Homo sapiens: one gene and its partner. The protein of the gene in region 1 interacts with the protein of each later gene in a biochemical or structural test. Each region holds a gene or a part of one and is shown in the gene's direction. Other genes may lie near its edges.

What was found.
Region 2: the proteins of ERBB4 (region 1) and TFAP2C form a complex in vitro, tested with the Homo sapiens proteins (one study listed by BioGRID).

What each region holds. Positions count from the first base shown.
Region 1 is NC_000002.12:211,375,205-211,380,813, reverse strand, and holds the end of ERBB4 (receptor tyrosine-protein kinase erbB-4 isoform JM-a/CYT-1 precursor), read left to right. Parts: 3' UTR 1-5,097; downstream 5,098-5,609. UniProt on the Homo sapiens protein: Tyrosine-protein kinase that plays an essential role as cell surface receptor for neuregulins and EGF family members and regulates development of the heart, the central nervous system and the mammary gland, gene transcription, cell proliferation, differentiation, migration and apoptosis.
Region 2 is NC_000020.11:56,624,494-56,632,318, forward strand, and holds the start of TFAP2C (transcription factor AP-2 gamma), read left to right. Parts: upstream 1-4,812; 5' UTR 4,813-5,051; coding exon 5,052-5,099; intron 5,100-6,711; coding exon 6,712-7,197; intron 7,198-7,311; coding exon 7,312-7,363; intron 7,364-7,825. UniProt on the Homo sapiens protein: Sequence-specific DNA-binding transcription factor that interacts with cellular enhancer elements to regulate transcription of selected genes, and which plays a key role in early embryonic development.

The sequences.
Region 1 (5,609 bases):
TTTCCTCCTAAGAACACAAGACTTCTACATGTTGGGTAATACCTAGAGATGCATGTAGGAATAATCCAAAATGACCCAAATGCTTTATAATAGCACCACTTTATAATTCTTTTGAATGATTTCTGTAGTATATAATTGACTTCAGTTGTTTGAGTGTTTTTTGTTTTATTTTTGTCCCCCCTGGGAAAACATATTTCAGCATGTATAAGAGGGAGAAAAAAAGTTTCATTCCTTCCAGAGAATAACTTATTTAGTCCAGTAGGGTAGAATTTTAAAATGTCAGTTAAAGTCTTCAAAGTGCTTGGGGGGATATCAGATTCCAGAGGCCAATTGTAGCAATTGAAATTTGCAGAATCAATTATGTAAATCTGAGACAAATTAGTATTAAAATTACACGGAGTATATTTTTTAAATCACCCAACTTTGTAGATTATACCTATTTTGGGCAGGTATGGAAAAATTTTGCAGTTAAATGATTGCCTAAAGAAAGTGGTAAACAGGTGAGGAAAGATGGCCTCTGATCTAGGATAGATCCAGAACCACAAAGCATCTGCACCACAAAAGGTGTTAGACTACCAAGCAGCTCCTGGTTTTCTGCATAGTATTAGTAGCACAGCTTAGGATGAGAATCCTTTCTCCAGTAACATTCTTAAAATAGCATGAAAAACAACGCAAAACTCAAATTTCTATTAAAACACACAAACTAAAATCAAGTGATTCTTTTTTGTAGATTAGGGAGAAGGACTGAATATCTAATTTAAGAGAAGGAATAGTGTTTAAGTGTTATAGTGTGTGAGCTAATACCTTCTAAAGGAAAGACATGGCATGAAGATTGTGCATACTTACAATGCTAAGGAAAAATCAAGAAAAGGACTGTGTGAGGCTCTGCTACTAGATGAAGTTGGAAGGACTATTAATGTGCTTCTTGAAGTATCAAAAATGAAAAGAAAATTAAAATTGTTTAAGCCTGACAGGGAAGGATGTAAATACAAGTTTTTCTAGAGCTCTCTAACCTTTATTTCAAAACTGGAATTATTCATCCATCTGTAATTGTTGATAATTTAACTAGTATATGTAGTTCATAAGGTAATAGAAAAGGTGATCATGAAAGCATGTATATAACTGGACAGAACCACGATAATGCTATAAGATGTAGATTTAGTTAGGTTATCAGATGTTAAATGATTTTAATATTATTAAATAAATCAAACTAGAAAACTAACCACAAGTATAATGTAACAAAGTTAAATGCAGGATATAAAAATGTAGGATGGATTTTGCATAGTAAAAAGATAAGTTTGCCATTTAAAATTGTTGTTTGTTGGGTTTAGCTGAAAGTAGGCATATATGGTTCCACTTGGGAAAACTTGCTTTAAAGCATTACAATGAACAATTTTTTCTCATTCTCTTATTCCTTTATCACTTTTTAAATGTAAAGAAAATTGTATTTATTTATTTTTTTAAATAAACACCACCTTGCAGAATTTAATAGGCAAACATGTTACATATGACTAAGTAAGGGTCTTCAAGATGAAGTAAAGAAAATGTAAATGTTCTATTACCTTATGCAGAGACAAAAAAAAAAAGGAGTGGTGTCATTTAGCTAGCAAACAAACAAAATACAGTTAATTGGTGATATGTCCTTTCTTTTCTCACTATGCCCTCTTGCCTCCAAAAATGACAACAAAGAATCACAATTTTTCTGATAAATAAATGCTAAACCAAGCGTTTCAAACTATTGCATTGCCATTCTTTTGGACTTTAGTTATTAGAATGATGATTGTTATAGGGCAAATGAGAAATCCATGTGCATCAGCTTCTAGTTGTTAAAAAAACCAGATAAATTAACTTCTACTGTATACTGTGGGCAGAGGATCCTAGAGCTGATCCTACAACATCAGCTTCTAGTTGTTAAAAAAAAAAAAAGAAACAGATAAATTAACTTCTACTGTATATACTGTGGGCAGAGGATCTTACTGTGCCTCTGTTTGTGTACATGGACTTCGGTGTGTATCAGTTTGAAGGACAGCCTTGCCCCATGTAAACATATAAATGCAGATTGGTATCGCCTGGTTGCTATTTGCTTAAGAACAAATATTATACAGATGAGATCAGGCATAATTTTAAAAGATCATTATCAGTGGAGACCTCATTATTACTGATATTACAATGGGGCCAGTTTTTATACTTCTGGGTAGAATTAATAAAATTTTTCTGATCCCAGAGATCTGAGTTCTCTCTGCAGTTGGAAACAAGAAGCTGTTGTGGGCATTGTGTCGGGCCAGGGGCCCTTGTGTTTGTGTGGGCAAATATCTTTTAGCAGTGTGAGCTGCTTTTTTCTTTTCATTAAAAGTCTCTCTAAAATAATAGAAATTTCAGATACTCGGTTCAAGTCTCACTGATTTTGTAGAGGTCCAAAAATGTAGGATCTGTCACTTTTGCAGGCCCCTGCCTCACCTAATTCCTGGCCAGGTGACATTTTGGGCAGAAGTAAATGCTTCTATAGTCACAAGCTAAAATGACTCTAAGCCCCAATTTCACGGGGGGTATTCACATGCTTCCTCTGGAAAATACTCTTTGACAGTCAGCTTTGCAAGTAAGTGATTACCTTGTTAGGAATCAAAGAAAAATGTATTTCTCTCTGACCTTTAGAGGAAAATAGAATCCTTCCCTTTTTTGCCCATTGACACAACTGGCACTGCTCTCTTCCCTTTCTACCACCCTGGTTCAAAGTAGTCCCCCGATGCTGTCCTGTTCCTTTCTTAAGCCATAGTGGATCTCTGAGATCCTACACCCCACTTTGTGAAACACTGACTTCATCTTTGCCCTCGAATGCCTGATTTTTTCATAAGAGATTCTAGCAATTTGGACACTGTTTAAGTGAACTATCAAACTACCGCATAGAGAATATTTAAGCTATTAAAATTATGGTTTCCCATGAAGATCAATTCTCTGTGTCCTTCCCTATAGGAATTTGAGACGAGTTAGCCCTGTGATGAATCTTGAAACTCACATATGTCCACATACACTTGGTAGAACTTCGATTTAATCTTTACATAAAAGCTGTACATATAACCAAGAAGTTATTTTTGCCAGTAAATTAACTTATTTGCTTTATTCATCTTATTTGGTTCCTAATCGTAAATATTTTGTAGCTGCTGTAAATTTTTTTCTCCCAAATGAGGAGTCTTATTATCATAAAGGTAAAGGCTATTCAGCTTTGATAACCACCTGCAATTCTTTTTTGGATCATTCATCCATCTAACAAATACATAATGAGGACAGTTCATGTTAATGAAAATCCATGTTGTTTAATAGAATGCCATCCTTTACCTACTTTTGCTCTTTATGGACGTTTTTCTTTTCATGCTCTAGTGAGCTTTCCCTATATCATGAGAAGTGGTTATATTTGTGCAAATATACAAATATAGGAAAACAAAGATTCATACCTGTAGGCAATAGTCTAACTTGTCCAAACCACTTTGCCTTTACTGCTATTTTTATCCCCAATGCGTAGATATTTCCCCCAGGCCTATAGCCTTTGTGAAGGAAAGCAAATCATACCTCCTGTATATTGACACGAATCTGGTTTTCAAATGTCATTTCCAGATTTTTTAGTTAATTGGGGGTTGTCCTTTTCCCTTAATGTGAGAGTCATTTTCCTGTATATTTCTGGATCTCTCAGGGGCTGGGAGGGGGGAGTGAGGGGACTACAACCATAGCACTCCAAGAACCCTTTTGGGATTACTCCAGTAATCAACTACGAAAGTTATTTTCTAAATGTAGATATGTAAGGTGTTCTTTTAAAGTAAGGTACTTTGAAATATGTAGCATAAACTGGTACTGCTGTTAAATGGGTCGATTATTAAACGGAGCAGCTGTGTGAGGGCAGCTAACTTTGAATGCCTGTCTCCCTGGCTGGTGTGTCTCCTTCTCATGTTGAGAGCACCAGGGATTGCGTGGCTGCATGCTGAAACCGCATTTTCCCATGGTGTATGACTAGTTCATCTCTTTCTTGAGCACCATTACAAGAAGATCAAATGAAAATGAGATCAATGTGGAAGACAATTCATAGCACAAAAAAAGTCATCTTAAATCTACTCTCAAACATTCATCTTATACATGCATCAAAGTAATTTACTGACATCAGTTTGGGTGAGAGAGGGAGTCACTTTACTGAAAAGGCAGAGGCTTAAGGTGTATACATTTGTACTCACTTCCTTATTTTCTTAACTTGTAAGCAGAAAACAAGCCCTCTCTCTTGTGAAGTATCTTCAAAGGATTGGGGTGCAAAAATACCTTGCTGGTAAGCCATCAATGTTTTATTTAAATCCCTGCATTCAAAGTTAGCTGCCTTTTTGAAATAAACAAACAAAAAATACTACTGTATGTTTGAAAATGTGAATAGTATTTTTATAGCTTGTTAAAGACATGGCTAGTTGCATTTGTAAATAAGTATAATGTTGCTTTGATTTTCTTTTGTGGACATCTTTATTTGGAACATAATTGTCTTTAGGGTTGATTTGTATATAAGTAATTGGCCTGTGATTGTTTCTTTTTTGGTTGGAAGTTATCATTTTGACATTACTTGTGATTCTGTGTTCAGCACTATTGTGATGTGTTCAACCTCTGCACTCGCTTACACAATAGGATATGCCAATTGTGTGTGGTGTAATGTTATTTTGATTTTTTTCCATGTTATTGATGAAGGATCATGCACCTAACACATACTAACTTTTTTAATGTTAGGCATATTTTTAGTATACTTTCTCTTATTCTTTCTTCTCCTCCAACCTTTTACCCATCCTCCTTCCTTTCCCTCATTCCTGTTGTTATTTGAGAATGAGGGAGAAACAGTATTTTACATTTATGTAATTAGGCTTTTCCGTTAGTTCTCAAGGATCCTCTTTTGGCTCTTGGGAAAGAATTGTACCTGTACAAGGCAATTATAGAATGCGAACTGCTTTGCCTCATTCCATACTGATCATCCCAGCTGAACAATTTGAAAACTGTTCTGCCTTTTTGTTACATGAATCTGTCAGAAATATATTTTTAATTTAATATAAATGAAATTCAATAAAATATGAAACAAACGTTCTCTTTTGTGTCAGAAATTTGTTATTAGATAAGCCAACTAGCAGAGAGGAAGATTTGTTCTAGGTTTAATAATGTGAAGATATAAAAATGGGCTTATTTTGCCCATATTTATGCAGCTCATTAGTTATTCCTCAGAACTCTTTGGTGTTTGGGATGTGATATGTTCCATATGTTTTTACCATCCACTGCATATGCCCATTGATGTGTACAGACTTACTCATCTGTGCATGCTATGCTTAATTAACTCTGGTTGGTTTGTTTCTCTGAGAATAAAAAAATATATAAAATATTTTGTAGGTTGCATCCAAACGACATTAATATTTTTATATACTTTTTTTCTTTCTGCCCTCATTGCAGTTTATAAAATGGATCCTGGCAATCCTTGGCTATAAAGAATATCAGATGTTACTACTGTCCTTGAGGTGGGGGAGGGAGAATAAGACCTTAAATAGTCAATCAGCTGACTAGTGACTTATGACAAGCCCACATAACAGTGTGAGAGTGACTTCAGA
Region 2 (7,825 bases), on another chromosome or scaffold:
TCTTCTTATTCTATTTTACTGGGCTCTTGGTTTTTGCTTGCCTGCCTACCTTCCTTTCTTCCTTCCTTCCTTCCATGTACTTTGCCCCTTTCTTTAAGGCAAATTAGCATGTAATGTGCAAACCAATCTCTCTGGCACTTAAGGAAGACCCCAAACCCCACTCCCTTTCTTCCCCTACCCCAAGAATTCACTACCCCTGGTTCAATTTCAGCTGAACCCGGAAACCTGTGATGTGACATGAAGGCTGAGAATTCCCAGAAATGTTAATACTTTTGGTCTTAGAAACTAACCAACTAAAAAAAAAAATCCCTTGCCAGTAAGAGGTAGGCTACATTTAAAATAATTTCTGACTGAAGAAGTCCTACGTACCGCTTGTCATATACATATGTAAAGATAATTTAAAACCCTAGGGTATACCCTTTTCAAATGCAGAGTTTATAGTTTCCAAGGGGAGGAGGGCAGGGGAGGAGTAACCAGGACCTTTCCTGCCAGTCTTCCAATCGCGATAGCTCGTTTTGGCTGTGAATTTCCCCCCTTCCCCTCCCCCTCCCGTTAATTAAATAAACGCTGGAAGCGTGTGTTTACCGCACACGACTCGGCCCTCGGGGAACTCTTTTTCTACGTCTCTCCTACTCTTAAACTCCTCAACTCACAGAGGGTTGGAGAGCTGGCACCATGAGCTTCCAGTTCCTACGGGTGAGAAAAGAGGTGTCTGTGTGGAGGGCAGGTGCGACCCCGGGGGCTAGCAGAGAGGAGAGGCTGCGGGAGGACTCGCTGCGAAGGGCGAGGGGTGGCGCTGGGTGGGACGGGCGCCTGGGGCCGTGCAGGGTGGCTCCTGGGTGCTGCCCGGGCTGCCTGTCGCCCAGTACTGGCGCAGGAAGACGGGTCCGCGCAGCGTCTGGCAACAGTGGCCTGCTCCACGCCTGGAGGCGACCAAGTTCTGAGTTAAAGGCGCCGGGCTTAGCCGGGAAGTGTATGGCGACCCAGAACACGGAGCGGAGAAGGCCTCAGGGGACACGAGGCTACCGCCTTAGTCCTCGGGCCTGCGCTCCGAGCGGTTAGGGTGCGTACGGATGGGCTCCGGGATGTTAGTGGAGAGGTGACAGGAGTCTACCATCCCACGGCCAAGCGTGTGAGGCCTCCGGCGGGCGGGGGTCCCCCCCGGGGCAGGGCAGGGGGAGAGTCAGGCATGTCTCTAACGGGCTCCCTAGTAGAACCGCTAGGAAAGTGGCCTTCAACCCTAGGCACCTTTGTGGCTTTCAGGTAGTTGGGCGACTAAAAATTCACTTTTGCCTGCTGTGAAATGGGACAGGTGGTTGTCAGGTTAGAGACTGTGCCCACGAAGTCTCGTTTGGCGGGCCGGGACTGACGTGGACCCGGGCCCTCCTCGGAAGCTTGGGAACCTGTGAGCCCCTCAGCTCCTCGCCTCACTTTGCCTGTTTGAAAAAAGGAGTTGTTTGAGAGGAAGAGTTAAGGCTCAAAAGGTTCTAAACGAAGAGCATGCGGCCTGACGCGGAGCGCAAAGAAGCGAGCAGTGAACTGAATCTGGTGGGACTGAGACCAGAGGCGTCTGTATGCGGCGGCCGCTTCGCGCCCTATTAAAGCAATCTGTTATTTACGATAATCATTTTTGTAATTATTTTGGAGTGGCTGTGACTTGATGTCTGTGGTGCCCCAGGGCATGCCCTTACTGGACATAGATACTTCAGGGTGCCCTTTGACGCCAGTGTCGGTCCAGTGGGTGCCAGTGCCGCGAAGGGAGGGTGGCGGGCGTGAATGCCCCCTCCTCCTGGGTTTGCCGCAGGCCCCGGCCTTTCCACCTTGCTTGATCCTGGCGGGTCTGCCACTTACTGAGGTCCCTACCGGCGCTCACGTTGTCCCGAGAGGCGGGACAAACGTCCGGCGCGTGGCGCGGAGTCTGCGAAAGCGCTCGGGGGCCTCCATCTTCTGCTCGGGAGTCCCCTCCCTGGGGCGGGAAGAGGAGTCGCAGATCTGCCCGAATCTTGCTCTACCCGCCTGGCCGCCTTCTTCCGTCTGGGGTGGGGGCAGGGGTGGCGGATGACTCAGGCCTGGGGCCGGGAGCCCTGTTTCCAAAGGCACCACCTCGCGCCTCTTTGGAAGTGGCGCGCTGTTGGGGCGCTCCCGCTGTTGCAGAGGCCTGGTTTGCGGTTTCATAGGGGCGTGGGTCCAGGGCTTCCAGGGAGTAAGTGAGTTTAGGCTCCCTAGGGGGCGGTAGAGGGGAACCCCCGACAACCTTCCATCCTCTTCTCCAGGCGGCTGCGAGGCCTCCGGGGTTCCAGAGGGGTCCCCTTCTGCCGGTGCCGGCTGTCTTGAGCGCGGCCACGCAGTCCGCGTCTTCACGTGGGCAAGGGGCGGGGACGTTGGAGGGAGGCTGTCTTGGATGCTGGAGCCTTCGGTTCCCGGCTCTGCTGAGCAGAAAAGTTGAAGTCAAGGAAGGGTTGAGGCTTCCTCACAAGGGCGCGCGCGTGCCTGGGTGCCGGCCCAGAAGCCGAGAATGTGCGTATTGGGGAAGGGTCTCCCGTGCCGAGAAGACAGAGGATTTGTTCTAGCTGCCTTCCGTACAGAGGGCGCGGAGGTTGCGCTCCAGTTCGAACGCTTACCCATTGGAAAGAGGGCAGCGCCGGGGTCCAGGGAAGCTCCTTGGGAATGAATGGCCTTTGCCAAGCGGTTCCGGATCCTCTGGGTCCTTTGGGCCCACGGCACGGTGCTGCGCGAGCCCTCAGTGCCCATCGGCTCCCTTCGCCTCCTGCGTAGACGCTCCCAGGCGGGGAGGCATATCGGTTCCTCCGGGCAGCTTTGGCTAGTGTTGCTGTGGGAAAGGAGAGCCAGGGCCTGGGATGGGGGATGAGCACCTTCTTGCCCATTCCGGGCCCCAGCGTGCAGGAGGTAAACTTGCCAGCACAGACAAGACAGCTTGTTCAAGCTGCACCTCAGGCCGGGTCAGAGAATAAAACCGAGGGCTAGAAGGCCCAGAATGTCGGACAGCCCAGCGGCACCCGTCAGGGAGTCCCAGGCGCCCGAAAGAGGCGCCGCACCTCTGGCGAGTCTAGGACCCATCTTCCTGGACCTGTGCTCTGGAGTGCCTGCGGGCCTGGGTCTAATTTCTGCTTCTGGCAGGTGTCCCCCTCCCCCGCCGCTAATACCAGGAGCGCTGCTTCTGCGGTAACTTATTTTACCCCCAGAAGCCTGTTTTGGGACCGAAGTGTCAGGGTCCTGTGTGTCTTTTTATGCACTGTTCTCCTTAGTGCAAAGCCCTGCAGATATGCTTGGCCGAAAAGTCTCAGTGGTTTCAACTTCCAGATTTTGTTCCCGCGTCCGGTCGGAAAATCACCTGGGATTTGGCTGCTGTCTAAGGCCGGGGGAAAGTTTCCCTTGGAGGACGCCTATTATTATTATTTTCTTTTAGGCCCACCTGGGTCTAAATAAATGCTAAAGTTCAAACGAACCCGAGAAGGAACAGCGAGGCAGTGGATGCCGCCATTCCGTGGATGGGAGAGTCATGTCTACTGCAGGTGCGGACACCGTACTGATAGGCATTGATTATTGCAAAATCGTATTCAGTATCAAATAGAAATAGTCTTGTCCTCTAATCCCCACAGAATGTTTAAATCCAGCCCAGGGAGCCAGTTGGGGCGTCCCAACAAATACGCCCTCGAGAATTAGCGATGTTCCCCTTACAATGAAAGTCAATTGCTGCATAATAACTGGGCCAAAGAATTTCGTTAGTTTAAATTTTAAAAATTAGTATTGCACTTTGCTTTCAAGTTTGGGTGGCAAGTACCGAAGGGGAGAGGGAAGCAGCGTTTGTGTGGAAGGAAGTTTCGTTTTCTGTCTAAACATGTGGGACCTGGGTGTCTACCTCTCCAGTCGAGAGCTCTCTGCAGGCTCTCTCCCAACTTCCTGCACCTCCTCACCCTCACCTTACCCGTGGCGCTCGGGTTTTATTCCTGCCCGGCGCTTCTTTCCCAGGGCGAGTAGAGGCTTCTGAGTGACCGGCCCGCCAGAGGCAGCTGCAGAGCCGGCGTTCCGCAGGGCAGGGCAGGGCCGGGCCGCTGGGCTGGTCCAGTGCGCGCGGGTTCCCCCTGGCCTCAGCCAGCCGCGGGAGATGCCACTTCGGGCGACAGCGGCGAGACGCCGCTGTCCGCAACTCCTGGGCGGGTAGGACCGTCTGCTGCCTCTGCGGCCCTTGGGGCAGACTCCCCAGGAGTCCCTTCCTCTCTCCTCCCGCCCGGGGGCCGGGACCGCGCTGTGCCCACGGAGGGAACTGGGCGTCTCTGGCGCACTGGGGCTCCAGCTGCATGATCCCAGCTCAGACCTTAAGCCTCAGTGGGGTGTAGGTGGGATGGGATGTGTTTTTAGGAGATGAGGAGACCCCGGTTGTTGAGTCGCTCCCCAAATGCGCAGTTTCTTAACTCCAGGTGACATCCGTCTTTTGGAGGAACGAGTGAAGGCCGTTTAGGCGAAAGAGGGGTGGGTTTCAGTATTTGGATCCCTTCCCCCAGCTCTGCCAATCTCAGGTGTGTTTACGGTGGAGGTGACAGAAGGAAGGCGCGTCGGGGGACCCAGGCCTCGCAGGTCTTCGGCTGTCAACGAGGCACCGCCCACTGACTCCGCGCTTCGTCCCTCACAGCGTGGGGCTCGGCGCTGCGCCAGGCCCGGGTGCGGGGCGGAGCTAGGCTGGGACTGGCTGGGGGCCGCCCCGCCCGGCGCCTGGGCCTCCGCGCCGGCCCCCGGGGAGGAGTTATGATAATTTCCTTCTCATTAAGGCGCTCGGGTCCCCCGGCTATCGCCAGGACACACTGTTCGGGCGCGGCTTTCCCCGTCCGCGGAGCGGTCTTGACACTCGCGGCGGCAGCATCTACGCTCGCAGAGCCGCCGATGCGTGTCCAGTGACCCGGACAGCAAGGCCCGCGCGCGGCGGGGGCGGCGGCAGACGCCTGGTCACCGTGACCCCGATTTTGGATTTACCGCTTGGGGGCTGGGGGGATCCTGGATTTAACTGGCGACTGTTTTGGGGGACGCCGGACGCCATGTTGTGGAAAATAACCGATAATGTCAAGTACGAAGAGGACTGCGAGGTGAGCTGGGGCTCCGGGGTGCAGCCCCGCCCCGCCGAGGACAGTCCGGGAGGCAGGGGCCACTGGACCGAGGTCGGGGACGAGGGCATAGGAGCCCTGGCCTCTCGGTGGGACGGGATCCACTTCTCCGGACACCCCTTAGTCCATTTCTGCGGGGCCCCTTTCCTGTATAGGGCCTTTTCCTAAATAGCCTCCCCTCGGGAACGAGGCCTGGAAAGAGAATGGCAAATCCCACCCACACAGCTTACCGGGCGCTTTCCTAAGCGGCAAACAGCCCTGCTTCCCGTTTTCTCGGAAAAGTGCCCCGTCTGCAACCCTCAGACGTGGCTTTTACGCACGAAGTCTCTGTCCAAAGGGGTCAGATGAGGCTACCTGCTAGCGACACCTTGGCGGACACTCCTCCAAGGCCGGCTTGTCACCTGCCCCGCTACCTCCTCGGGGAAGCACGAAAACAACCGAAGTTTGGCTTTCAAAAGAAGTGGGGGCTGGGGAGTGGTGGTGGGGGTGCCCGAGGCCAGATGGGGCCGTAAGAGCTCGCGAGTGCTCCAGCCTGTCGGACAGGTTGAGCTAGAGTTTCGGAGAGTGGGAGGGAAGAAGGAGGCGGCGAGCGGGAAGAGGAAGAAGACGCAGGCAGCGCTAGGCGAGCTCAGGGGCGCCGGGAGCGCGGAGCTCGGGCTACGGACTCGCGGGAGTTCACTGCGCCTCCGGGCCCTGGAGGGCTGCCCCTGCCCGCAGGCCCGGGCGCTTCCGCCAGGAGGCGACAGCGCCATGTTCCTCCAGGTTCCCGGCGCCCCGAGACCCCTGGGCAGATGGGGACGCATCCTTTAGAAACTGAGTCGGGCCGCCCAGGGGCGAGGGAACGTGCGCGGGCAAGGCTGCCCAATTTCCAGGGTTCTTCATGCCCCCTCTGCGCCCCGACGTGCGAGAACACTGCCCTTGGCAGTGCAGGGCGCCCCCACTTATTACTCCCCTCGGCTGGGCCCGGCCAGCAGGGAGGGCCGCCCTGTGCGCGCGCTCCCTCTTCACTTCCCAGGGCGGCGCAGGGTGGCGGGCCCTGCTTTCCGAGCGCCGCCCGCTCGGAGGTCTTTGTCCCGAGGGCGTGGAAGGGAGGGTCCCGGGGGCGGGGGAGGTGCGCATTTCCCGCGCCGCGCACTCTATCCGCGCCTGCCGCGCTGCCACCTCCAGCAGTCCCTGCGTCATGGGCGGGCTCCACGAGATAGCTCTGCACCGGGCGTCCGGCTCCTTCGCCCCGGGCTCTGGCTCCTTCGCCCCGGGCTCCGGCCACGGACTTTTCTGGCCCAAGACCCAGGGTTCGGACTTGGCGCCTCCAAGCGCCTCGGGCTTGGGAGCAGCGCCTAGACCTTCGCCGCCGGGCTTTGAGAACTCGTTCCCCCAGGTCTTTCACCAGACTCTCCTCCCTCCCCGCACTCTTTGCTTACAACGAAATCCTCGGGGCGCATTGCCCCCGGGTACCTTCCGACCCTGGGCAAGCCCCGCCGGGCGGGGTGCGGTTGGTCCCCCGGGGCCCTCTGCGTAGCCCGGCGATGCCGGCCAGTTCGCAGTAGCGGGGTTTCGCACTAACGGGGTCTCCTGTTTTTTTTTTTCCCTCCAGGATCGCCACGACGGGAGCAGCAATGGGAATCCGCGGGTCCCCCACCTCTCCTCCGCCGGGCAGCACCTCTACAGCCCCGCGCCACCCCTCTCCCACACTGGAGTCGCCGAATATCAGCCGCCACCCTACTTTCCCCCTCCCTACCAGCAGCTGGCCTACTCCCAGTCGGCCGACCCCTACTCGCATCTGGGGGAAGCGTACGCCGCCGCCATCAACCCCCTGCACCAGCCGGCGCCCACAGGCAGCCAGCAGCAGGCCTGGCCCGGCCGCCAGAGCCAGGAGGGAGCGGGGCTGCCCTCGCACCACGGGCGCCCGGCCGGCCTACTGCCCCACCTCTCCGGGCTGGAGGCGGGCGCGGTGAGCGCCCGCAGGGATGCCTACCGCCGCTCCGACCTGCTGCTGCCCCACGCACACGCCCTGGATGCCGCGGGCCTGGCCGAGAACCTGGGGCTCCACGACATGCCTCACCAGATGGACGAGGTGCAGGTGAGCGGCGCTGCGGCTCCTGACCGGACCTGTTCACCCTACGGCCTTCTGCCCCCACCCCGCACTCCTCTAGGCTCCCCCGAACTTAAGGGAATTTTGTCCTCTCTCCCCCAGAATGTCGACGACCAGCACCTGTTGCTGCACGATCAGACAGTCATTCGCAAAGGTAAATAGCAAGGTGGCATCGTCTAACTCTGGTCACACGATCTGGGCTTGTGAAGTTGACTGGCAAGGTTGGGGGTATTTGGTGGCCAGCGTGGGACATTTGTGGTAGAAGGGACTGAAAGGGATTCATGGAAGCTAGATTTTAGGAGTGACAGAAAGGGATTTCCCTCCGACCTCCTAGGAGCTGTCTCTTCATCTCCGGAGTTGTTACTGCCTAGTTTTTTTTCTTGGAAAAATGTCCATGAATTCCAGTGGGTGTTTCACAATGTGAGAGAAAGTCTTCCAGAGCGAGTGAACACTGATTTAACTTGAAAAACAACAAGAAAAAAGTCACAGGCACACCTTCGTTGAGTGGTTGGTTCTGTAACAATTTTAATTGTTGAATAAGTTGTGATTTTATTTTTGATTTCAAACACGTGTATGGAAAACCTCCTTAATTCTGACCTGCAAGAAAAGTTTTGAA